Homo sapiens: one gene and its partners. The protein of the gene in region 4 interacts with the protein of the main gene of each other region in a pairwise test. Each region holds a gene or a part of one and is shown on either strand. Other genes may lie near its edges.

Region 1 (3,500 bases), on a different chromosome or scaffold from region 4:
GGGATTATAGGCATGAGCCACCGTGTCTGGCCAAGAATAAATTTTCTTTTTCTTTTCTTTTTCTTTTTTTTTTTTTTTTTTTTTTTTTGAGATGGAGTCTCGTTCTGTCACCAGGTTGGAGTACTGTGGCACGATCCCGGCTCACTGCAACCTCCGACTCCCTGGTTCAAGCGATTCTCCTGCCTCAGCTTCCTGAGTAGCTGGGATTACAGGCGCGCGCCACCATGCCCAGCTAATTTTTGTATTTTTAGTAGAGACAGAGTTTCACTATGCTGGCCAGGATGGTCTCGATCGATCTCCTGACCTCGTGATCTGTCCGCCTTGGCATCCCAAAGTGCTGGGATTACAGGCGTGAGCCACCATGTCCAGCCCAAGAACAAATTTTCTGAGAGGTCCCACTCCTCCTGGAAAACATCCCCAATTCCTTCTGCTCCCTAAACCTGACCACGAACTCTATCTACCCTTCCCCTACCTCCCACCCCAAAACCCTCAGCCCACTCCCTTTCTGGCTGTCTCAGATTCCCTGGAGATCCGTGCCCCCTCCCCACCATCCATCTCTGTTTCCCCAAGCCATACCGGGTTGAAGGTTGGGGGTCCTTCCATGGTCTGTGAAGTGAGGAAGAAGCGATATTATTCTCCAAGAGTCGACAGATATCTATGACACACCCATTAGACTCCGGCGTTTCTCTAGGTGCTGGGTTAGTACACCTTGGGCTGCAACCCCTCTTAGCTCCCCCTACCCCAATTCTCACCATTCCCACTCCTCACCCGGGGCCCTCCCAGCCCTCCCACTCACGGGCAGGCTGTTCAGCTGTTGATGGCAATGTCCGGGACCCTGAACGATGGACAGAAGGCAGGAAGGGTGAGAGGGGCTGAGGGACCCCACTAGGGAGGAAGACCCTCACCTATCAGCAAGTACTTACAGGGTAAGGTGGCATCATCGGGGGTCCCTGTGGGCACAGAAAGAGAAAGCGGTTATGAGAGGGTCCCCAGATTTGCGACTGAAAGATGTCGAGAGTGCCTGCCCTGGGGTGGCCCACCACCACCACCACTATGCCAGAGAACTCTGGCATCAAAGGGTGGCACCCCGATCACAGATTCACGGAGAGGGGCACCCCATGTTCTGGGATCGCTGATGCCCAGTGAGTCACCCCAAAGCTTTAGGACAATGCTTGGTCCATTTTGTTCTCTGTGCCCTTCCCCTTGCTGTCTTCCTGCTGTCCCGGGGCCCTCACTCGCTGATCTTGATCTCAGTTTCTGCCTCTGTCCCTGTGTCTCTGCCTCTCTCTCTGTCTTGGCCACACCTCAGCGCAGGGGCTTCCTTCTGCCAAACACTTTTATTTATTTATTTGAGATGGAATTTCGCTCTTGTTGCCCAGGGTGCCGTGCAGTGGCACGATCTCTGCTCACCTCAACCTCTGCCTCCTGGGTTCAAGTGATTCTCCTGCCTCAGCCTCCGGTGTAGCTGGGATTACAAGCATGCGCCACCACGCCCAGCTAATTTTGTATTTTTAATAGAGATGGGGTTTCTCCATGTTGGTCAGGCTGGTCTCAAACTCCCGACCTCAGGTGATCCGCTCGCCTCACCCTCCCAAGTCTAACACCTTTAACTTTTACTCTCTCTCTTTCTCTCTGTTACCTTCTCTTTTCTCCTCCTTGTAATTAACTCCATTCTGCCTTGACTTCTATTCTCAGCCAGCTATTCTGAAGGCCTTTTAAAAGTAGCTTTATATAGCCGGGCGTGGTGGCAGGTGCCTGTAATCACAGCTACTTGGGAGGCTGAGGAAGAATTCCTTAAACCTGGGAGGCAGAGGGTGCAGTGAGCTGAGATCATGCCACTGCACTCCAACCTGGGCCACAGAGCAAGACTCCATCTAAAAAAAAAACAAAAAACAAAAAACAAACAAACAAATAAACGTAGCTTTATAAGCCGGGGGCTGTGGCTCACGCCTGTAATCTCAGGACTTTGGGAGGCTGAGGTGGGTGGATCACCTGAGGTCAGGAGTTCAAGACCAGCCTGGACAACATAGGAAAATTCCTCCCCTCTGTCTTTACAAAAAATTTAAAAACTAGCTGGGGCTGGTGGTGCGTGCCTGTAGTCCCAGCTACTCAGGAGACTGAGGTGGGAGGATCACTTGAACCCAGGAAGTCAAGAATACAGTAGGCTGTGATTGCACCACCACACTCCAGCCTGGGTGACAGAGCCAGACCCTGCCTCAAAAATAATAATAATAATAATAATAATAATAATAATAATAATAATATTGATAAACTCAATTTAATTGTATGTTATTTATTTTTAATGATTGTGTTAAGCAACCTCTAGGGAATTCATTCACTATCGTGTGTTCTTTGCCTTTCCTTATCCTCACTTTCTGACTCACCTTACACACTTCCTCCTACTCCAGGAAGCACTTCCTTCCTGACCCATGACTAGTCAAGCCCTTCCTGTAGGCTCCCAAACCTCCTGTATACTCCATATCCCAGCCCCTGCCCCTCTGCCTGTGCCCTCCCTATCACAGACCTGACCATTTCTGGGCTGTCACTCTCTGATGCCATGTCTGTGAGCCCAGTGAGGTCAGGGCCCAGAGATATCTCAGTCATTCCTGTCTCCAGCCCTGGGCCTGACCCCTCTGCCTGCCTCCACCCACCCTCCTGTCCTGGCCCTGATCCCTCTGTCTGGGCCCAAACCCAACTGCAACCCTTCAGCCAGGGCCTCCCCATCCCGGCCTTTATCCCTTGCAGTGATGGGTCTGTCTTCCCAGTGGGATCCCTTGATCATCACTGGGCTCTTGGCATAACTCAGCAGAGGGAGATGCTTGGGAAATAAATGAATGTGGAATGCGCTGGGCACCATGGCTCACACCTGTAATCCCAGCACTCTGGGAGACTGTAGCCAGCAGATCACTTGAGGCCAGGAGTTCCAGACCAGCCTGGCCAACATGGTGAAACCCCGTCTCTACTAAAAATACAAAAATTAGCCAGATGTGATGGTGGGTGCCTGTAATCCCAGCTACTTGGGAGGCTGAGGCAGGAGAATTGCTTAAAACTGGGAGGCAGAGGTTGCAGTGAGCCAGAATCACACCACTGTACTCCAGCCTGGGAGACAGAGCAAGACTCCATCTCAAAAAGAAAAAATAGACCAACTGCGGTGGCTCACGCCTGTAATCCCAGCACTTTGGGAAGTCGAGGTGGGTGGATCATGAGGTAAGGAGATCGAGACCATCTTGGCTAACACAGTGAAACCCTGTCTCTACTAAAAATACAAAAAAATTAGCCGGGCGTGGTGGCAGGCTCCTGTAGTCCCAGCTATTTGGGAGGCTGAGGCAGGAGAATGGCGTGAACCTGGGAGGCGGAGCTTGCAGTGAGCCAAGATCGCGCCACTGCACTCCAACCTGGGCGACAGAGTGAGACTCCGTCTCAAAAAAAAAAGAAAAAAAGAAAAAAAGAAAAAAAATGAATGTGGAACTGAATTTAGAAAGAAAGGACGCAAGAAGGGA
Region 2 (3,500 bases), on a different chromosome or scaffold from region 4:
AGAAAAGGTACAGTAAAAATATGGTATGAAAAATTAAAAACCACACCTGTTTAGTGCACTTAACATGAATGGAGCTTTCAGGACTAAAAGTTGCCCTGTGGGAGTTAGTGAATGAATGGCAGATTAATGTGAATGTGATGGTCTACACGCTCAGGCTACACTGTATTTATTAAAAACCAGTAACAGGCTGAGCGGGGTGGCTCACGCCTGTAATCCTAGCACTTTGGGAGGCCCAGGCTGGTGGGTTGCCTGAGCTCAGGCGTTTGAGACCAGCCTGGGCAACATGGTGAAACCCATCTACTAAAATACAAAAAAAAAAAAAAAAATTAGCCGGGCATGGTGGCATGCGCCTGTGGTCCCAGCTACTCGGGAGGCTGAGGCAGGAGAATTGCTTGAACCCAGGAGGCAGAGGTTGCAGTGAGCCAAGATCATACCACTGCACTCCAGCCTCACCACACATGTGAGTAATGTGTTTCACAACGGCATTGTGCTATGATGTTACAACAGCTATGACATCACAAAGCAGTAGGAATTTTTCAGCTCCAGTATAATATGGGACCACAGCTGCACACGGTCCGTTGTTGACTAAAATGTTATATGGTGCATGACTGTGTTTAAATATTCCTATATTTTTATATTGTTTATTTTAAAGTTCTATGGCCAGGTGCAGTGACTCACACTTGTAATCCTAGAACTTTGGGAGGTTGAGGCAGAAGGATCCCTTGAGGCCAGGAGTTGAAGACCAACCTGGGCAACATGACAAGACCCCCGTCTCTACAAAAAATTTTTTTAAAAAATTAGTTGGGTGTGGTGCCATATGCCTGTAGTCACAGCTATTCGAGAGGCTGAGGCAGGAGGATTGCTTGAGCCCAAGAGTTGAGGTTGCAGTCAACTATGATCATGCCACTGCACTCCAGCTTAAACAACAGAGCAAAACCCTATTTCAAAAAAAAAAAAAAAAAAAAAAGGCCGGACGCAGCAGCTCACACCCGTAATCCCAGTACTTTGGGTGGCCGAGGCAGGCAGATCACCTGAGGAGTTCAAGACCAGCATAGTCCAACATGGTGAAACCTCATCTCTACTAAAATTACAGAAATTAGCCAGGCATGGTGATGGGCGCCTGTAATCCCAGCTACTTGGGAGGCTGAGGCAGGAGAATCGCTTGAACCCGGGAATGGGAGGTTGCAGTGAGCTGAGATCGCACCACTGCACTCTAGCCTGGGAAACAGAGTGAGACTCTGTCTCAAAAAAAAAAAAAAAGTTTGGTATATATCTTTATTCAGACCTTGCATACTCTAACATATATGTGGGTATATGTATTTTTTAACCCCAAAATGGGACTATTCATATGGCTTTTTGGTTGGGTTTTGTTTGTTTGTTTTTGTTTTTTTGTGACAGAGTCTTGTACTCTTTCACCCAGGCTGGAGTGCAGTAGCGCAATCTCAGCTCACTGCAACCTCCGCCTCCTGGGTTCAAGGCATTCTCCTGCTCATCCTTCCGAGTAGCTGAGATCACAGGCACATGCCACCACGCCAGGCTAATTTTTGTATTTTTAGTAGAGACAGGGTTTCACTGTGTTGGCCAGGCTGGTCTCGAACTCCTGACATCAAGTGATCCTCCCACCTCAGCCTCTCAAAGTGCTGGCATTACAAAGTCGTGATCCACCACACCCAACCTAGTCATACTGTTCTATAACTTGATTTTTTATATGACAGTGTATGTAAAACTTCCTTTCATGTTAGTTTCTGTAGATTTGTCTCACTCTTCATAATGACTGTATCATATTCCACTTAATGGCCGTGCTATATTTTATTTTAGTGTACTCGGTACTGGTCATTTGGGTGTTTCTAGTTTTTTACTCTTACAAACAATCCTGCTGTGAATATTTTTGGACAGTTTTGTGGTAACTAAAATTAAAACTTTTTTTTTTTTTTTTTTGAGACGGAGTTTCGCCCTTGTAGCCCAGGCTGGAGTCCATTGGCGCAATCTCGGCTCACTGCAACCTCTGCCTCCCAGGTTCAAGCAGTTCTCCTGCCTCAGCCTCCCAAATAGCTGGGATTACAGGCATGCGCCACCACGTCCAGCTAATTCTGTATTTTTACTAGAGACGGGGTTTCACCATATTGGTCAGGCTGGTCTCCAACTCTTGACCCAAAGTGATCCACCTGCCTCAGCCTCCCAAAGTGTTCGGATTACAGGCCTTAGCCACTGTGCCCGGCCTAAAACATCTTTATTTCAGTAAGGTCAGGAGTTCTAAGTTCCCAAACCCATTTTAAGTGTCCTTTGCTCCATAGATCTTCAGATCCCTACCTGTTGGCTATAACATCTCTAAGCAAGTTCTTGATCAGTATCTCACTCTGCTGGCAGATGATCCAGTAAGTCTGTTTTTGCTTTTTTTCTTTTTTCTTTAGCCTGTACTGTTGATAATTTATTTCTGCACTGATACCTAGTGTCATCCTCCTGCAGAGTTATTCTCTACCTAGCCAGCCCAGACAATTTCTCCACATCATTTGATAGGAGGGCTACCTGCTGCAGACTTTTGGTCAGATTTGTTCCATTGGAAACAGAATCACTGGACTTTCCGTTCAGTTAACACTCTCTCTTTTTCTTAATAGCTAGAGTTTGTTGGAAAGTCTGGCGACAGTGGTGGAGGAATGTATGTCATCAGTATCCTTACCAGTTATTTCCTTAGAGTCAGGCAGCCTGACCTATAAATCAGAATGGTGCCTTAGGAAAGAAAGATTTGGTAATGTTTATTATACTAAATAAATTAGAAAATTGAAGTAATTGTTAAATAAATTTTTCTATGAATTTTCAGTGAACTGCATTGATGATGAAGTAAAAAGAGGCCAGGCATGGTGGACTTTGGGAGGCTGAGGCAGGTGAATTGCATGAACCCAGGAGTTCAAGATCAGCTAAGCAACATGGCAAAACCCCATCTCTACCAAAAATACAAAAACTAGCCAGCTGTAACGATGCATGCTTGTAGTCCAGCTCCTCAGGAGGCTGAGGTGGGAGGATCGCTAGAGCCCAGGAGACAGACGTTGCAGTAAGCTGAGATCATGCCACTGTACTCCAACCTGGGTGACCCTGTCTCAAAAAAGAAAAGGAAAAAGGACTTTTAATCAACCAAATTTTAGTTAAGCAAAACCCTTACTTAAACACTTGTATTAAAGTTTTGGAATATTTATGTACCATGACTGAAACCATAAATTATAACATGAAAAACAAAATAGCATTTAAAATTTAATTATAAATTAGAAACTTAGGAATAAAACTCAGATCACAATAACTAGGCCAAAACATTACTGAGTGACCTTAATTCTCTACATAAAGACCTCCATAAGGCATTAGCATCCCTAGCCACAGCCACTCTGGAGTCCGTCGTACAGGAGAGGTAAGGGGGACACTGGTTGGGTTTGGGATCACATACTTCCTATCCCCAGTGAAGTAATTTGATCATTATGTAAGCCACCAATATAACCACACCTTGGCATACT
Region 3 (4,041 bases), on a different chromosome or scaffold from region 4:
GGACGCGGTGGCTCACGCCCGTAATCCCAGCACATTGGGAGGCCGAGGCCGGTGGATCACCTGAGATCGGGAGTTCAAGACCAGCCTGGCCAACATGGCGAAAACCCCGTCTCTACTAAAAATACAAAAATTAGCTGGGCATGGTGGCGGGCGCCTGTAATCCAAGCTACTCAGGAGGCTGAGGCAGGAGAATCGCTTGAACCTGGGAGGCGGAGGTTGCAGTGAGCCAAGATCCTGCCACTGCACTACAGCCTGGGTGACAAAGCAAGACTCTGTCTCAAAAAAAAAAAAAAAAACAAAAAAAAACAATTAATGCCCTCGGGTAAACTATGACGTTTGTGCTAACTTTTCAGATGTCCCAAGATTTGGGTTGTTTTACAAGGATAACGAAGTTCATGATGAGGTTAAGCAATCACTGAAGCTAGTGCTAGAAATTTTTTTTAATTTAATTTTTTAGAAAGAGGGGTCTTGCAGAATTTTTTATTTAATTTTTTAGAAAGAGGAGTCTCGCTATGTTGCTCAGGTTGGTCTCCAACTACTGGGCTCAAGTGATCCTCACGAGTAGCTAGGGCTACAGGCACAGGACACTATGCCAGGCTTAGTGCTACAATATTCTGTCTATTTTACTTTAAAATATTCTAAGTATGCTCACTTTGGAAGGCATCAACATCCAGAAATGCATTCCTACATCAAGACTCTCAAGAAACGGGAATTACTGTAAGGGCATACCCTTGAGCAACCATCACACTGCACTGAACTCTTGAGAATATTCTGGAATATCCTGGAAGCATCTCTGCAGGGCAGAGAAGTGAACTGCCACAGAAGGAGCAGCTTTGGGGAGAAGAAATACAGTTTGCCTCTTACAGTATTTTTCTACACCGAGAGCTACATTCCTCCCGAGTTTTAAATTTGTGGACCGTTGAATATCACTCCGCCTTTCATAAAGTTACAAATACCTTCCGTCGGTGGCGGGAACAGAGTTTGGAAAATTACATGCCTAAGACTTCAGATAAGCTAAATGACATACATGCAATAGCATCCCATGAAGAATTTATTCAACCCAATCCATTGCATCTAATTACCCAAAGCACAGAAACTCTCCAAACTGTGCACCCCCCAAAAGGAGGGAAAATGCAAGGTTCCTGCTGCAGTTCCCGGGACACACTGCGAGCCGCTTTGTTACAAGTGTATCCAATGTCCCCAGAACGAGGGACTTGTGGGGCGCGGCTCATCCCAGCGCCACTTGCTCTGCAGCTCCCAGAGGTGGTGGTTGTGTTACGAAGGCTGACCCTGCCAATGGCCGACAAAATGGTGCGCACCCCCAAGTGCTCGAGATGCAGGAACCATGGCTTCCTGGTGCCCGTCAAGGGACACGCGGGCAAATGCCGCTGGAAGCAGTGCCTCTGCGAGAAGTGCTACCTGATCTCCGAGCGCCAGAAGATCATGGCCGCGCAGAAGGTGCTCAAGACGCAGGCCGCCGAGGAGGAGCAGGAGGCGGCCCTGTGTGCGCAGGGGCCCAAGCAGGCCTCCGGGGCTGCGGCCGCCGCCCCCGCCCCCGTCCCCGTCCCGGCCGCGAGCCTCCGCCCGCTGTCCCCGGGGACTCCCTCCGGAGACGCCGACCCGGGACCCGAGGGCCGCGCGGCCGCTTGCTTCTTCGAGCAGCCCCCGCGGGGCCGGAACCCCGGCCCGAGAGCCCTCCAGCCGGTTCTGGGCGGCCGCAGCCACGTGGAGCCGAGCGAGCGAGCCGCCGTGGCGATGCCCAGCCTTGCGGGACCCCCTTTTGGGGCGGAGGCCGCAGGCAGTGGCTACCCTGGCCCCCTAGACCTGCGCAGGCCGATGCGGACCGTGCCCGGCCCACTGTTCACCGACTTTGGTAAGTCGTGGCCTTGGTCCCGCGGTCGACTCCCGGAGCTGGCAGCCCAGGCCAGCCCGGATGGGGAGCTGGCATAGGGGTTCGGGGTGGAGAGAAGTTTTTCCACGGGTAACGGACCTTCCGCTTTGAGAAACCCTTCTTCGAACAGGGATTTGGATTGGGTAACTTTTCGCAAAAAGGAAACGAGAAACAGAAAGGAATGGGCGGTTCAGAGGGCTTTTAACATTTAGCTGTAGTTTGTGCCATTCCGGCATGCAAGAACAAAATGGCGTCCAGTCGACTTAGCAGTGCTTCCTCCTCCGGGGGAGGCTTCGAGGAGCCGAGTCCTACTGCTCTTGCGCACCTCTTCCCGCCATTTCCTTGGGCTGGAGGCTCCTCCTCCAGAATAACAGAATTTTCCTGCCGGCACGTTAGCGCAAGGACGCCTGCGCACTCTTCCCTCCCGGTTCGCGGTCGGGAGGCTCCTCCCCTCAGCTCCGCCCTGGCCCAGTGCGCCTGCGCACCTCTTCCCTCCGTTTCCCCACGTGCAGGTGAGGGGAGCCTGCTTCTTTACTCCACACACGAGAACAGTTGGTCAGTAAAGATGTTGCCTTTCTTTTCTCCCTTCACCTTGTACATAAATTACATTGTTCCCTGTGCCTTGGAGCTTTTGGTATTGAAGTAGTTTCAAGTCACATGTACATTTGAAGCTTTAGAAGCCCCGGGGTTTGGTGCGGACGCGTTTTCCTGGTGTCTCCCCCGTGGTGGTGTGGTGGGACGGGCTCAGGCCGAGGCGGGGGCCCGGGTCACGCTGGACAAGCTCCTGCCCTCTGTGTGCCAGGGCACTGGTCCGGAGGCTCCCGCAGGCTCGTCCCGCCCCCCTGACTTTCCAGGAAAATCTAGGTCCCCAGGGAACGTCCCATCTGACAGGGTCACAGGCCTGAAACTGCAGATCTAGGAGAAGCCACCTTTCTTTTTTCCATCTCAACAGACAAGCAGGGCTGAGCCGAACCATGAGCCAGGCATTCGTGATGGAGGACGCGGGTCACATTTCTTGCCCTCAAGGACCTTGTCCTTGTGGGAGGGACAGGGTTGATCAAAGAGTCACACAAATCAGTGTCCAGGGCTTGAGCCATGGCCGGGTTCACTGTGACCCGGAGGAGGAGGAGGAGCTCGGCACTGAGGCCTCAGAGAGGCAGAGTGCGGGCTGACGGTGTGTGGGGCAGCGGGGAGGTCTGGAGGCGGCCCCGGCCCACAGCGGGCTTGATGGCCGTGCTGAGGACTTTCCAAGAGCAGTGGGGCTGGCTGGAGGATGGAGATGCAGTGAGGGCCCAGCGGAAGGAAGTGCGGGGTGGGCTTTCTGTGCTTGGACGGCAGCGCTGATGACCCCGCCGCCCTGGGCCGCCCTGCGGATGCTTTTCCCAGCGGTGTCTAACACTTCCCTCCTTGCTTGCGTTCTTTAGTGCGCCCTCTGAACATCAACCCGGACCGTGCACTGGGCCCTGAGTACCCTGGTGGCTCCAGCATGCACCCCTACTGCCCGTTCCCGCTGGGCTACCTGGACGCCCCTCCTGGCGTCCCCCTGCAGCAGGGCTTCCGGCATGTGTCCCGCAGCCAGTACCAAGGCGGAGGCTTGGTGAGTCCCACCCCTCACTTCTTGCCAGCTTCCTCCACCCAGTCTGCCCCTGCTGCCTTGATGGATCCTCAGTCCCAGGAAGCCAGCTGTCATAAACTGTGCCCACGCCATGCCAGCCCCCGAGTGCTGGTGGAGGACTAGGCACTGCCCAGGCACAGTGTGTGTGTCTCTGGGAGCACACGTGTGGACCAGTCTGCACCACTCGGCTTGGGCTATGGCCTGTGCTTTTCAGGGCAGTGGGCTGAAAGGCTCTGAGCGTTCAGGATGACCCCTTCCTTGACTGATGCTGATGCTAGAAGGGCCCTTCATTTTGCTGGACTCCAGAAAGGGCATATCACCTTCCTGGGACCACAAAATTTAGGGCAGAGCCAGGACCAGAGGTAGGCTCCCTGCCCACAGGTATAGCACACTTGAGACTGCAGAGGGCTTTCAGGAGGAGGTGGCATTTGAGCGGAGTCATGAAAAATACGGAAACCTTCCCCCAAACACTTGACACCTTAGGAAATACCTGTTGAAAGAATGAAATTTAATCCTTTTATAAGATTAATAAAGG
Region 4 (3,500 bases):
TCTTCTCCATGGGAGAGGCAGTGCCCTATGCACACTATGGTAAGAATGCAGTAACCGACCAGCTGATCACAGGTCCTAAGCCAGGGCCCATTGCCCGAGGGCCTGGGACCTGCTGACTACACAGCCTAGCAGGGAGAGGCTATCCCCAAGGCTCACAGAAAGCCAGGAAGGGTGGGTGGTGCGGGGGTCGGAGGGGAATGGGGCTGCAGACTTCTGTGCGCCCCTCTCCCAGAGCACCTGGGCACGCCTTTCGCCCAGTTCCTACTGAACATCGTCGAGGATGGGCTGCCCTTGGACACCACAGAGCAGCTGCCGGACCTCTGCGTGAACCTGCTTCTGGCTCTCAACCTGCACCTGCCAGGTGGGGTGGGGCCTGGCTGGGCGGTGGCTGAGCACATGGTGGCTCTCAGGCTCAGCACCCTGTCTATACCCATGTCCTTCCTTAGCTGCTGACCAGAATGTCATCATGGCTGCCCTGAGCAAACACGCCAATGTCAAGATCTTCTCCGAGAAGCTGTTGTTGCTCCTGAACAGAGGGGGTGAGGGCCCGGGAATCTGCGCGGGTACCACTTCCATGCCCTGTGACTCCATGACCCCTGCAATGACTCCCGTAACCCCCTGGGGTGACTCTGGGATCCCCACAAGGTCCACCCTGACCGCTATGACCCCTGCCTCCTAGATGACCCTGTGCGCATCTTCAAACATGAGCCACAGCCACCACACTCTGTCCTCAAGTTCCTGCAGGACGTGTTTGGCAGCCCGGCCACAGCTGCCATCTTCTACCACACAGACATGATGGCTCTCATTGACATCACTGTGCGGCACATCGCAGACCTGTCACCAGGAGACAAGGTGCCTGGAGGTGGCTGCAGCAGCGGGGGTCACTGTGTGGAAACTGAAACAAAATGGTGGGGGGCATGACATTGAGTGGAGATGAGGGGGCAAGGCCACTGCTGGAGCCAGGTAAGTGTAGGAGGCCATGATAGGTGCACCAAGACCCAAAGGAGCCAGCCATGAGGTGATCTGGAGGTGGTGGGGCTGGAGGAGGCTGGAGAGGAGGGAGTGGAGGGAGATGAGGCATGGAGGATGGAGTTTACACAAAGCCTCGGAGGCTGCTGCAAGAGGTTGTGATCTCAGGACCGGGGAATGTGATGTGATTAACATCCCACATGGAATCAACTGCATGCCAGCAGAGTGGAAGCCAGCCAGGGAGGAAGCAGCCTCAGTGGTCCAGGTGGCATGGATGGGGTGGGGATGGGATAGGTCGTGGCAGTGGCAGTGGCGAGAAGAGGCCAGCTGTGGAGTGTTTAGTAAGTGGATCTGGCAGGGCTTGCCACTTGATTTATCTTGAGCAGCTAGATGGATGAAGTGCTGATTTTTGAAGTTGGGGAGGCTGGGAGAACTTCTTGGGGGAAAATAGAGAGTCGTGTTTTGAATGTGTCAAGAATGAGGAGATATCTGCTAGACACCCAGGTACCGAGGGCATCAGGGAGGCAGTGGGGAATGAGTTGAGACTAGAGAGACATTTCGGAGTGGTCTATGCAGAGATACGATGGGAAGCCTGTGACAATGTGATTGCCTCAGAAATGAGATAGATAGGCAGGTCAGCGGGAAGTTCGGGCTGCAGCCCTGGGCACAGCTGAAACAACTAGGGAGAAACCCAGGAAGAGAACCAAGAAAGCAGGAGCCCAAAGCCACATGTTTAGAGGAAGACGATCAGCCATCTCTATACCGTTAGGAGCCTGAGCGAGACTGGGGTTGGCCATTGGATTCACCACACAGAGGTCAGTGGTGCCTGACAAGCAGTGTCAGTGGGGTGCAAGGAGGAGAGTCTGAATGAAAGTTTGAGAGAGCTTGAAGTTATTGGGGAGTAGAAATGAGGGGAGGGTTGGAAGCAGTAAATGGAGACAACTCTTGTGAATTTTCTATTAAGGGGAAGAGAAAAATGGAAGGGAGGTTGCTGGAGAGAGATGACATGGGGATAGGGAGAGTGTTTTTTTGGGGGTTTTTTGTTGTTGTTGTTTGTTTGTTTGTTTGTCTCCCACTGTTGCCAAGGCTGGAGTGTAGTGGCACGATCGTGGCTCACTGTAACCTCCGCCTCCTGGTTTCAAGTGATTCTCCTGCCTCAGCCTCCCAAGTTGCTGGGATTACAGTCACCCACTACCACACCCAGCTAATTTTTATATTTTAGCAGAGACAGGGTTTCGCCATGTTGGCCAGGCTGGTCTTGAACTCCTGACCTCATGCAATCCACCTGCCTCAGCCTCCCAAAGTGTTGGGATTACAGGTGTGAGCCACCGTGCCTGGCCAGGGAGAGTGTTTTGAAGATGGGGGATGTTGGCCAGGCGCGGTGGCTCATGCTTGTAATCCCAGCACTTTGGGAGGCTGAGGTGGGTGGATCACTTGAGGTCAGGAATTCGAGACCAGCCTGGTCAAAGTGGTCTCTACTAAAAATACAAAATACGAAAAATACAAAAATTAGCTGGGTATGGTGGTGGGAGCCTGTAATCCCACCTACTTGGGAGGCTGAGGCAGGAGAATTGCTTGAACCCGGGAGGTGGAGGTTGCTGTGAGCCAAGATCACACCACTGCACTCCAGCTTGGGTGACAGATGGGGGATGTTGGCCAGGTGCAGTGGCTCACGCCTATAATCCCAGCACTTTGGGAGGCCGAAGTGGGAGGATCACTTGAGTCCATGAGTTCAAGATCAGCCTGGGCAACATAGTGAGACCTCTGTATAACCTGATGGACCACAGTAGAAAATAAAATTAGCTGGGCATGGTGGTATGCACCTGTAATTCCAACTACTTTGGAGGCTGAAGTGGGAAGATTACTTGAGCCCAGGAGGTCAAGGCTGCATTGAGCCATGATTGTGTCATTGCACTCCAGCCTGGGCAACAAAGCCAGACCTTGTCTCTTTAAAAAACAAAAACAAAAATGGTACGGATGATGGTGCATGTTCTGAGCCGGAGGGAATGATCCAGCAAGCACAGAGAGATGGATGATGTGTTGGAGATGGTGAGCCACCACAGGAGTCAAGTGGATGGGGCAGGAGGGGAGAGTTCAGGTCCAGGCCCACATGGACAGGAGCTAGGGCTGCTCATTCTGGTAGGGACAGGTGAGATGTGGGTACTGAGGGGAAAGACGGGTTTCTGCAAGATTACTTCTGTATTCTCTATGAAGCACAAGGCCAGCTGACAAGGTAGGTAGGTTTCAAAGACAGAGAAGGTGGACATTATTACTACTCTAAGGGAGAGTGACACAGCAGAGAAAAGCAGTGGGAGGCTCAGGCAGTGCTGTGTGTCCGTTTGAGGTTTGCGGTGGTGAATGACATTCAGGCCTGCACATGGCTCTGCATTTGTCTATAGCTTAGACGCTGGTGTTTGATGTGCAGGCACCTCAGTATGACTCCCAGGGCTGGGACTTAGCAGGGTGTGCTGCCTAAAGGAGGTTTTGGTATTATTTCTCTAATTAAAGGTAAAAAGAGAAATGAGGGATGT
Region 5 (3,500 bases), on a different chromosome or scaffold from region 4:
TAACAACAAATTGCCTCACATATTTTATTTTATTTATTTATTTTTTGAGATGGATTCTTGCTCTGTCACCTAGGCTGGAGTGCAGTAGCGAGATTTCAGCTTGCTGCAACCTCCACCTCCCGGGTTCAAGAGATTCTCCTGCCTAAGCCTCCCGAGTAGCTGGGATTACAGGCACCCCCCACCACGCCTGACTAATTCTTGTATTTTTAGTAGAGATGGGGTTTTGCCATGTTGGCCAGGCTGGTCTCGAACTCCTGACCTCAGGTGATCTGCCCTCCTCAGCCTCCCAAAGTGTTAGGATTACAGGTGTGAACTACCACGCCTGGCCTGCCTCACAATTTTTTTTTTTTTTTTTTTTTTTTTAGATGGAGTTTTGCTCTTGTTGCCCAGGCTGGAGTGCAATGGCGGGATCTCGGCTCACCGCAACTTCCGTCTCCCCGGTTCAAACAATTCTCCTGCTTCAGCCTCCTGAGTAGCTGGGATTGCAGGCATGCCCCACCACGCCCAGCTAATTTTGTATTTTTAGTAGAGACGGGGTTTCTCCATATTGGTCAGGCTGGTCTCCAACTCCCGACCTCAGGTGATCGCCCACCTCTGCCTCCCAAAGTGCTGGGATTAAGGCATGAGCCACTGCGCCCAGCCAGATTGATGGATTGATTGATTTTGAGATGGAGTTTCCCTCTTGTTGCCCAGGCTGGAGTGCAATGGTGCAATCTCAACTCACCTCAACCTCTGCCTCCCAGGTTCAAGCGACTCTCCTGCCTCAGCCTCTGGAGTAGCTGGGATTACAGGCATGCGCCACCATGCCCGGCTAATTTTGTATTTTTAGTAGAGACGGGGTTTCTCCATATTGGTCAGGCTGGTCGCGTTGGTCTGCCCGCCTCGGCCTCCCGAAGTGCTGGGATTACAGGCATGAGCAACCGTGCCCGGCGCCTCACAGATTTTAAAAGCGTAACTCTAAACTCATTGTTAGTCTAAAGTTATTGGGTTTTGATTTGCTTACATAATAGGGTTTAAGGAAAGTCAGCAGTAAGTTTGGCTTGGTCATATTAATAATAGGAAATGAGCCTGAGTAACATGGTGAAACTTCATCTCTACCAAAGAAAAATTCAAAAATTAGCCAGGTGTGGTGGCACATGCCTGTAGCCCCAGCTACTTGGGAGGCTGAGGTGGGAAGATCTCTCGAGCCTGGGAAGCAAAGGCTGCAGTGAGCCGAGATTGCACCACTGCAGTCCAGCCTGGGCAACAGAATGAGACCCTGTCTCAAAAAAATAATAATAATAGGAAGTGATTTTAAGGTTTTGGTCTCAATACTTAAATATTTAAATATTGTTGAAAACCAGTAAAGCCTGGATCATATTGCATCTCAAACTAAAAACTGGAGTTCTAGATTTAAACACACACACACAAGCTTTTTTATTTGCAGCTGAGACTACAGGCATGTACCACTATGCCCAGCTGTTTTTTTGAGATATTTGTTTGTTTGTTCATTTGTTTGTTTTTGAGATGGAGTTTTACTCCGTCCCCAGGCTACAGTGCAGTGGCTCGACCTCAGCTCACTGCAACCTCCGCCTCCTGGGTTCAACTGATTCTCCTGCCTCAGCCCGACCCAGGTGTGAGCCACCATGCCCAGCCTCAGCTGTTTTTATTTTTTTATAGAAATGGGGTCTTGCTATGTTGTCCAGGCTGGTCTTGAACTCCTGGGCTCAAGTGATCCTCCCACCTTGGCCTCCAGAAGTGTTGGGATTACAGGTATGAGCCACTGTGCCTGGCTACAAAAATTTTTTCTTAGGATGAGGACATTTATACTATTGTTTTATTTTTGGTTGTTGTTGTTTGGGTTTTTTTTTTTTTGAGACGGAGTCTTGCTCTGTTGCCCAGGCTGGAGTGCAGTCGCACGATCTCGGCTCACTGCAGCCTCCACCTCCTGGGTTCAAGCAATTCTCCTGCCACAGTCTCCCGAGTAGCTGGGATTACAGGGGTGCACCACCATGCCCAGCTAATTTTTGTTTTTCAGTAGAGATGGGGTTTTGCCATGTTGCCCAGGCTGGTTTTGAACTCCTGACCTCAGGTGATCCACCTGCCTCTGCCTCCCAAAGTGCTGGGATTACAGGCATGAGCCACCACGGCTGGCAGAATCACGTCTCATCTCTAACTCCTCTCCTTCCTCCTCCCTCTCCCCGATTCTGCGGCAGATACACTAGGCTCCTCAGAGTTCCCGAAACACACTGGCACACCCTTCCTCAGAGTCCCAGGGCTCCCTGGATTTCTGCCTTAAACTATTTTCCCAGAAATCTGTGTGGCTTGATTCTTTACTTCTTTCAGCTCCCCGCTGAGACGTCACCTGGCCATTATTTAAAATAGTGGTGTTTATTTCTAGCTACATAATATGCTCAAAGGCAGTAAGTGGAACTGGGATTCCAAACCCTGATCTTCATCTTCTTAGCATTCCATGTTTCCCTGTGGAACTCTTCTTTAAAGCTTATTTAAGAATTCTAGCCGAGCAGGGTGGCTCATGTCTGTAATCCCAGCACTTTGGGAGGCTGAGGTGAGAGGATTGCTTGAGCCCAAGAGTTCGAGACCAACCTGGGCAACATAGTGAGACTTGATCTCTACAAAAAAATATTTAAAACATTTCCAGGCATGGTGGCATGTGCCTGTAGTCCCAGCTATTCGAGAGGCTGAGATAGGAGAATCACTTGAGCCTGAAAGGTTGAGGCTACAGTGAGCCATGATTGCACCACTGCACTTCAGCCTGGGTGACAGAATGAGATCCTGTCTCAAAAAAAGAAAAAAATTATAAATACATAGTAGTATATAGCTGGGTGTGGTGATGCAAGCCTGTAATTCCAGTTACTCAGGAGACTGAGGCAAGAGAATTGCTTGAACCCGGGAGTGGAGGTTGCAGTGAGCTGAAATCGTGCCACTGCTCTCCCCAACCTGGGCGACAGAGTGAGACTGTGTCTCGGAAAAAAAAAAAGAAAAAAAAAAGTATATACGTGTGTGTGTGTGTGTGTGTGTGTGTATATATATATATAGAGAGAGAGAGAGAGAGAGGTATATACATGAATCCAGTGGTTTTTGAGTTTTGTTTTCATTCTTGTTGAGAAACTGTTCAAATGCTCTCTTAATTCAAAGTGTAAATACATAAGGCAGAAAAAGGCAGAGTTATGACTGAGGCTGGGTTGGGGGGCCTAAGCCCTGTCCCTTTGGTTTTCTTTTTCTTTCTTTTTTTTTGAGATGGAGTCTCGCTCTGTTGCTCAGGCTGGAGTGCAGTGGTGTGATCTTGGCTCACTGCAACCTCCGCCTCCTGGGTTCAAGCAATTCTCCTACTTCAGCCTCCAAAGTAGCTGGGATTACAGGTATGTGCCACCATGCCCGGCTAATTTTGTATTTTTAGTAGAGATGGGGTTTCTACATGTTGATCAGGCTGGTCTCAAACTCCTGACCTCAGGTGATCCGCCCTCCTCAGCCTCCCAAAAGTGCTGGGATTACAGGTG
Region 6 (3,500 bases), on a different chromosome or scaffold from region 4:
GCCAACATGGGAAAACCCCATCTCTACTAAAAATACAAAAATTAGCCGAGCATGGCGGTGCACGCCTGTAGTCCCAGCTACTCAGGAGCCTGAGGCAGGAGAATCACTTGAATGTGGGAGGCGGAGGTTGCAGAGCCCAGATTGAGCCACTGCACTCCAGCATGGGTAACAGAGCAAGATTCTGTCTCAAAAAAAAAAAAAAAAGTTATAGGCCGGGCGCGGTGGCTCATGCCTGTAATCCCAGCACTTTGGGAGGCCAAGGTGGGTGGATCACGATGTCAGGAGATTGAGACCACCCTGGCCTCTCACGTGAGGCCTCTCACCCACCCTCTCACGGTCTTTAGTAGAGACCGTCTCAAAAAAAAAAAAAAATTATAAAATAAAATCAAATAAATAAAAAATAAAAGCTCTTGGTCCCCAGGGGCTGGGTCTGAGAGCAGATGGGACTGGGGAGACAGCTAGGTCAGGACAGAGATTCCCAAGTAGGATACCAGGAATCTTAGGTTCTAGTACTGGGTCTGCTACTGCTGCTGTGAGACTTTGGGCAGGTACATCTCTTTCAGGGCCTCAGTTTACCCATCAGTGGGATGGGAACAATAATCCCTGCCTTCCTCCTAGGAGGGCCATAGCAGCTCAGACAGCATATAAAGCTGTGATTTCTGTGCTCATCTCAGAAAAAAATATGTCTAGAGAGGGCCCCAGGCCATAAGCTGGGTGGGTCACAACCCGAGGTGGAGGGGGAGCCATTTGCCAGGTGTATAAGGAGTGGAGTTGCCTGCACTAGAGGGTACAGCCTCCATCAGTGGGGCAGACACACTTTCTCCTTTTCCCAGCAATCACAGAAGTCTTCCTGCAGGAGGCAGTTCAGGAGCTATCCAGGCCAGCTAGGCAGATGCTGAGGAGAGGCACTACCCAAACAGAAGACAGAGGGTTTGCTTGGGGAGTTGAGAGGGGCTGGAGAGCACCTCTTGGGGGACAGCTCTGGGGTGACCGTGCTGAACCCACCCCAGGTCATGTGCTACGACTATGACAATGACGGGGGCCATGACTTCATCGGCGAGTTCCAGACCTCAGTGTCACAGATGTGTGAGGCTCGAGACAGCGTCCCGGTGAGATGGGCACGTGTACTGTAACCCCAAGACCTCAGCAGGGCTGGGGGAAGGGGCACCGGGTCTTGGGTCAGGCAGCCTGGGGCTGAGATCCCCCTTCTGGCTGCATGACCTTGAGCAAGGCATTCAATCTAAGACTCAGTTTCTCCATCTGTCAATGGGGGCAGAGGATTTGGGTGGGGATTGAATGAGATGATGCAGGCGAAGTGCCCAGCATATAGTGAGCAGTCAGGAGCTATCCATTTAAGTCATTCCGTGATGTTGGGCCCTCAGCTGGACAGTTTGGGGGTGCGTTATCTGGGGAGGAGGGAGGCAGATGCTGATCCTGCTACCATTTTTGGGTGTGGACATCCTGGGAGGCTCCCTGGAGGAAGCATGCTGCCCCCATTGTCAAGCCTGTGGAAGGGATTCTAGGGCCAAGGAGGAGGATCTGTTTCCAAAGAAGCCCCGAGGTGAGTGTCTCTTTCTTTTGCGTTGCCCAGCTGGAGTTCGAGTGCATCAACCCCAAGAAGCAGAGGAAGAAGAAGAACTATAAAAACTCGGGCATCATCATCCTGCGATCCTGCAAGGTGAACCAGCGTGGGCAAGCACGAGCCAGGGGCCAGGTTTCAGGCCACACAGAAGGGACAGACAGAGCACTGGATCTGGAGCCAGCGAGGCCTGTGTTCAAATCCCGGCTCTGCCACATCCTGGCCCTATGGCCTTCTGAGCTTCACCTCACCAGGCCTCAGTCTCCTCATCTGTGGAATGGAGATATTAACGAGGCAGAGCATGTCCAGGGTTACTCTTCTCTCACATTCCTGTGTGGAGGCCAGGGAAGGCACGAGCTGACCTTCCAGGGCCTGTCCTGGTGGGAGAATTGTCATTGCGAGTTGCTGCCGCCCACGGTGGGCATGCAAGGGGCAGAGGACATTGGGTGGGGACACCCTGTCCTCTCTGGCATCAGCGTCACTGTGACTCCCATGGTACAGCCGGGGCCACTGAGGCCCAGAAAGGCAATGAAGTTCATGTCAGCAGTGGCCAGGCTGTGGGTGGGGGCCAGAAGACCTGGTGGGCAAATAACTGCTGGATCTGGCAGAACATTAAGGAAGGCAGCCTGGGGCAGGAGAGCAAGAGACCTGGGCTCAGGGCCTGACAGCTCAGGAGTCTGGCCGCTGCTCTCCACCAGCAGGTGGATCCCAGACTCCCACCTTATTTGGAGCCTCGTCTGGCTAGGGTTTACACGAACATTCAGTGGTGTCACGACAAAAAAGCACTCCGTTAAAGGTCAAGATGTCAGGTTGCAGCCTTGTGATGGATGGTCCTTGTTTCTGAAGTTTCCATCATTCACATCACTTTTCACAATTTCTGGCACCTGCCTTACTTATTTTTTTGAATCAGTCTTTCTTCCCTGTATTATTGTTTTTTGTTTTTGTTTTTGAGACAGAGTCTCACTGTGTTGCCCAGGCTGGAGTGCAGTGGCGTGATCTCAGCTCACTGCAACCTCCGCCTTCCAGGTTCAAGGGATTCTCCTGCCTCAGCCTCCCAAATAGCTGGGATTACAGGTGCATGCCACTACGCCTGGCTAATTTTTGTGTTTTTAGTAGAGATGGGGTTTCATTATGTCGACCAGGCTGGTCTTGAACTCCTGACCTCAAGTGATTTGCCTGCCTTGGCCTCCCAAACTGCTAGGATTACAGGAATGAGCCACTATACCTGGCCTGTTTCTTTTCTCTTTTTTTTTTTTTTTAACTTAAATACATTTATTTAGAAAGAGATTATTAGAACTCTACCAAAATTAAAAGATCTGCCTTCTTTGCCAAAAAGAGACAAAGACCATCAAAACAACTTCTAGAGGAAGGCCTTGAGCTGGAGGCCTGCTCTTTCTCTTTGTTAAAAAGGTAGATTAATAAGGGCCAGGAGAAGGTAAGTACCTAACAGTGACAAATTGAGACACTCTGTGTCAGGTAACTGACACTGGGCCCTGGCACCCTGCCTGGAACCAGCATGTGTCTGTGTATCTGTGGGGTGTGGGGGTCTCTGTGAGTCCCCCACCCATTAGGAACCATTGCACTGAAGGCTTTGTTATAGAGAGATTTGGGTTTTGTTGTAATTAGATCAGGCCCATCAGCTTTTTTTGACCTCCTTGTCCCTACTGAGGTTGCAGGACATAGAGCAACAACTCCCCCATGGGGAGTGTGACCAAGTCAAGGGGACCCACTGACTCATCCGCTTTCTTCCAGATAAACCGAGACTACTCCTTCCTTGACTACATCCTGGGAGGCTGCCAGCTCATGTTCACCGTAAGGCTCTCCCCGCTGGCTCCCTCTGCACCCCCATCCCAGTGAGGGTCCTCCCTGAAGACTTGGGCCACTAGTGCAGCCAGAGGGACTTAGGGTAGACTTCAGGAAG
Region 7 (3,500 bases), on a different chromosome or scaffold from region 4:
GCATGGAGTTCAGAAGGCCAGGGCAGCTGTTGGAGAAACAAGTACAGACAGATGGACTGTACTAGCCTCCTGGCCTAGGGATGGGATTGTGGGTACACAGATGAATATGGCATCTCTAATGTGCTCCCTACTCCAGCGGAACTTTCACCCTGATAGAAAGAGTGATACTAGGAAACCCCATCTTGGTGGAGGGGAGGGAGGCACTGAATACTGTGTGCACACTGGATACTTCCCAAGGAGATCTTCCTTGTTCAGATGAAGCAAGGGGAACCGAGAGACCCAGCCTTTGCAGGAAGCATACACGGGGGAGGGGAGTTGGGAGCTAACTCCAAGAGAGTCACCAGATCTGACCCAGTGGCCAGCTAGCCCTTGGGAGGAGGCCAGCTTGGAGGAGGTCTTGGTTTTTGGGGCAATCTCTTTGGTCAAGACTCCAAGGAAATGGTATAGCACATACTTGGCTTCCAGAGAGCAGCTTCCAGGAAAACCTCAGCACAGGCAGGGAAGTGTAGAGGTCTCTGGTAGGCCCAAGGACTCTGGCCACAAGGGTTCTTCCTACTCGGGGTGGTGCAGCTCTTCAAAGGATGGGCAGAGGGAAACACCTACCTCCAGAAAAGGAATAGGCCTTACAGCCAAGGCCCACAGCTGGTTATTAGATAAAATCAACTAGAAAAATCTTTCCTGAGGGTTTCTTCTGCTATGACGAGGGACAGGAATTAAGAAGTCTTTTTTTTTTTTTTTTTTTTTTTTTGAGACAGAGTCTCGCACTGTTGCTCAGGCTGGAGTGCAGTTGTATTTTGAGTAGAGGTGAGGTTTCGCCGTGTTAGCCAGCATGGTCTCGATCTCCTCACCTTGTGATCCACCCGCCTCGGCCTCCCAAAGTGCTGGGATTACAGGCGTGAGCCACTGTGCCCGGCCGAGAAGTCTTTTTAACATCATTTGAGAGATATGGTAGAGGAAGAGACCTGAGACCAGAGATAGGAGCTGTGGGAGCATGTTCTGCCAGCTCCAAGCTAGGCCTGAGATTGCCTCCATAGACCTGGGAACCCCACATGTGGGAATATTTCCACCAGCTTTCTAGGGTACATCAAGGCTGAGAAATAGCTCCTGGGGAAGGTGGATAGAGAATCCTAGATCTCCATCCTGGGGAAAATTTGGAGAGAAAGACATGGTACCAGGACAAGCCCAGTGGCTGGACAGGTCAGTGGTTGGAGGGTTTAATAGGGTCCAGGAATTCCTGTGGCCTGTACTTTCCTTGAATGGAGAGAAGAAATTAGGGACCTGGGGAATGTTGTAAGGCATCTACAAAACTTCCCAGAGCTTTTGGGAAATAATTCTGGGGGACAATGGGATTGGAATGCAAACAAAATAGAGCTTTCTTTGAACTAGGTGGTATTCTTAGAATCCAGGATCTGGCTGGATAATCTGGACCTTTTCTCTTTCCTAAAAAGAGCCTTTTCCTTTCTTTCTGGGTTACTAACAGAATATGACACTGTTTGCTGGCACAACTAGAATGGCTGCTGAGGGTCACCGTTAAACTTGATTTTCTTCACTCTACCCTTTGTTCTCCCATTTTGGGTTCATGCAGTTGTGCTGCAGGAGTTGATAAGGAGTGTCTGTGGGAGAGAGTGGGCTGTGCTATGGATAATTAAGGAATGATGTTTTATCTATTGCCATGTAACAAGCCACTCCAAGATTTAGTGTTTCAAAGCAACAATTTCTTATTATCTGGCATGGTTTTGTGGATTGACGGGGCTCAGCTGGGTGGTTCTTCTGCTGGTCTGTCTCAGTGTCTCTCATGCAGTTGCAATCAGATGGTGGCTGGGGCAGAGTCTTGGAGGCTCAACTAGACTGCAGCCTCCAAAATGTCATCTTCACTCACCTGTCTGGTGCTTTGATGTTCTTCCATGTGGCGCCTTTCTCCATGTAGTGTTTCATTCTCCAGGGCCTTTCCACATGGCCTTTCTCTTCAGGAGTTATGTGGTAGCTGGCTTCTAAGAATGCAAAGGCATACATTGCCAGGCCCTCTTAAGGTCTGGGCCCAGAACTGGCATATCGTTTCTGCCACATTCTATTGGGAAAGTAGTCACAGGTCTGTCCAGAGTCAATTTGGAAGGGAGGTGGGTACAGGTGCGGTTATGAGGGAGGCGTGGTTCATCGAGGGCCATATTGCAGACTAGCTCCCTCAGAAGGCTAGGGAGAACATACATGGGACAGATGATCCATTAGTGAGGAGGTAGTGCTGGGCCAGACTGATGAGAGAGAGAACCCCAAGAGGGAGGTAAAATGCAGAGACTTGGCAGTTCTACCTCTATCGCAATCCTTGGAGGGTTTTTTTTTTTTTTTTTTGACTCTAGAGGTTTCTTTCTAAAGGCCACATGATAAACGATGCAGCTGGAATTTGAAATCAGATTTGCCTGGCTCTGGGCCTGTCCACTAAGCCATTGACATACCAGTCCAGCTTTTTTTAGGCCAGGGCTGTTCAGTGCTGATGATTCATAGACATAGTGGATCTGAGCTCCCTGACATCTAATAGATGTTTGCTATATTACACAAATTGATTTTAATACAGAGCCTTTTCCTTTCTTTCTGCAACATGAAAATCACCCAAAATGAGTGTGACCTTGTCCCTCATGCTAGTATTTTTCAGTCAGTCATCAACTCTGTTCACAAAAGGTGCAATTAGGGCTTGTGGCTCGGAGGGGTGGGTAATTGTGACTGAAAAGACCAGCGTGCTTTCTGACATCTTCACTAAATCACCCTCCTCCTTGGTATGGGGGCTGTGGCCAGTATTTGTAGCTCCTGGTGTTAGAAAATGACCTTTGGCCCACCACTCTGTCAGCCTCAGCTCAGAAGGAACCACCTCTTTTGTCACACTTGTGTGCTGGACTGGTCAGTGGCTACCCCACAGGACTTTAAAGCAATGAGCAAGGCTTATGGATTGAGTGGATTCAGGGCATTTTCACAAAAGTTCCCTTAGCAACAAGTCGGCGGGAATCCCTGACATCTGTTCACCGCTCTGTGGATCCCTGATGTCTGTTACCACCTAGAAACATGAATGAGAGGCTGACCTTCACGTACTCTTCTCAGTCTGGAAAAGCCCAGCTTTTTTCTGATGGTGTGGTAGACCTTGTCTGTGAACACGGATACTGATCCTCACTTCGCTGGTGAAAGAAAATGTTTTTTGGTAAACCAGGAAACCTTGTGTACATGTAAGGTATTTTGACTATTATCAGGCCAGCCCAGGGGACTGTGCTGTCTTATTACTCACAGCAGCAAGGCGACACATGACAGGCTTTCTAACAAAATGTCAGGAGGGATTCCTCTGTACTTAAATGCAAAATTAGTATATTTCTCTGTCTCCCTGCAATGGCGAGGCTTCTGGGGTGGTATTTATGCCTATGGCGAGAAGAAGAAGTGGCGGCTGGCAGATCTCTCTGGCTTTTCCTTGGCTGACCAGAACATGTTGTGACGTTGTGAAAGTTTAGTTGCAGTAGGTATAT

What was found.
Region 1: the proteins of NCKIPSD (region 4) and LGALS4 interact in binary tests that used the Homo sapiens proteins (3 or more experiments, as listed by UniProt).
Region 2: the proteins of NCKIPSD (region 4) and POLR3C interact in binary tests that used the Homo sapiens proteins (3 or more experiments, as listed by UniProt).
Region 3: the proteins of NCKIPSD (region 4) and DMRTB1 interact in a two-hybrid assay, tested with the Homo sapiens proteins (one large-scale study listed by BioGRID).
Region 5: the proteins of NCKIPSD (region 4) and RBP7 interact in binary tests that used the Homo sapiens proteins (3 or more experiments, as listed by UniProt).
Region 6: the proteins of NCKIPSD (region 4) and CPNE2 interact in binary tests that used the Homo sapiens proteins (3 or more experiments, as listed by UniProt).
Region 7: the proteins of NCKIPSD (region 4) and GAS7 interact in binary tests that used the Homo sapiens proteins (3 or more experiments, as listed by UniProt).

Annotation. Positions count from the first base shown.
Region 1 is NC_000019.10:38,802,946-38,806,445, forward strand, and holds part of LGALS4 (galectin-4), read right to left. Parts: intron 951-3,500; coding exon 924-950; intron 836-923; coding exon 797-835; intron 607-796; coding exon 577-606; intron 1-576. UniProt on the Homo sapiens protein: Galectin that binds lactose and a related range of sugars. May be involved in the assembly of adherens junctions.
Region 2 is NC_000001.11:145,834,200-145,837,699, forward strand, and holds part of POLR3C (DNA-directed RNA polymerase III subunit RPC3), read left to right. Parts: intron 1-2,294; coding exon 2,295-2,375; intron 2,376-2,615; coding exon 2,616-2,667; intron 2,668-2,818; coding exon of another isoform or gene 2,819-2,821; exon of another isoform or gene 2,822-3,292; intron 3,293-3,336; coding exon 3,337-3,397; intron 3,398-3,500. UniProt on the Homo sapiens protein: DNA-dependent RNA polymerase catalyzes the transcription of DNA into RNA using the four ribonucleoside triphosphates as substrates.
Region 3 is NC_000001.11:53,458,158-53,462,198, forward strand, and holds the start of DMRTB1 (doublesex- and mab-3-related transcription factor B1), read left to right. Parts: upstream 1-1,241; 5' UTR 1,242-1,296; coding exon 1,297-1,873; intron 1,874-3,315; coding exon 3,316-3,488; intron 3,489-4,041.
Region 4 is NC_000003.12:48,675,916-48,679,415, reverse strand, and holds part of NCKIPSD (NCK-interacting protein with SH3 domain), read left to right. Parts: coding exon 1-39; intron 40-232; coding exon 233-361; intron 362-446; coding exon 447-539; intron 540-679; coding exon 680-852; intron 853-3,500. UniProt on the Homo sapiens protein: Has an important role in stress fiber formation induced by active diaphanous protein homolog 1 (DRF1). Induces microspike formation, in vivo. In vitro, stimulates N-WASP-induced ARP2/3 complex activation in the absence of CDC42.
Region 5 is NC_000001.11:10,003,728-10,007,227, forward strand, and holds part of RBP7 (retinoid-binding protein 7), read left to right. Parts: intron 1-365; exon of another isoform or gene 366-580; intron 581-3,500. UniProt on the Homo sapiens protein: Intracellular transport of retinol.
Region 6 is NC_000016.10:57,120,083-57,123,582, forward strand, and holds part of CPNE2 (copine-2), read left to right. Parts: intron 1-1,010; coding exon 1,011-1,109; intron 1,110-1,591; coding exon 1,592-1,678; intron 1,679-3,331; coding exon 3,332-3,391; intron 3,392-3,500.
Region 7 is NC_000017.11:10,192,107-10,195,606, reverse strand, and holds part of GAS7 (growth arrest-specific protein 7), read left to right. Parts: intron 1-3,500. UniProt on the Homo sapiens protein: May play a role in promoting maturation and morphological differentiation of cerebellar neurons.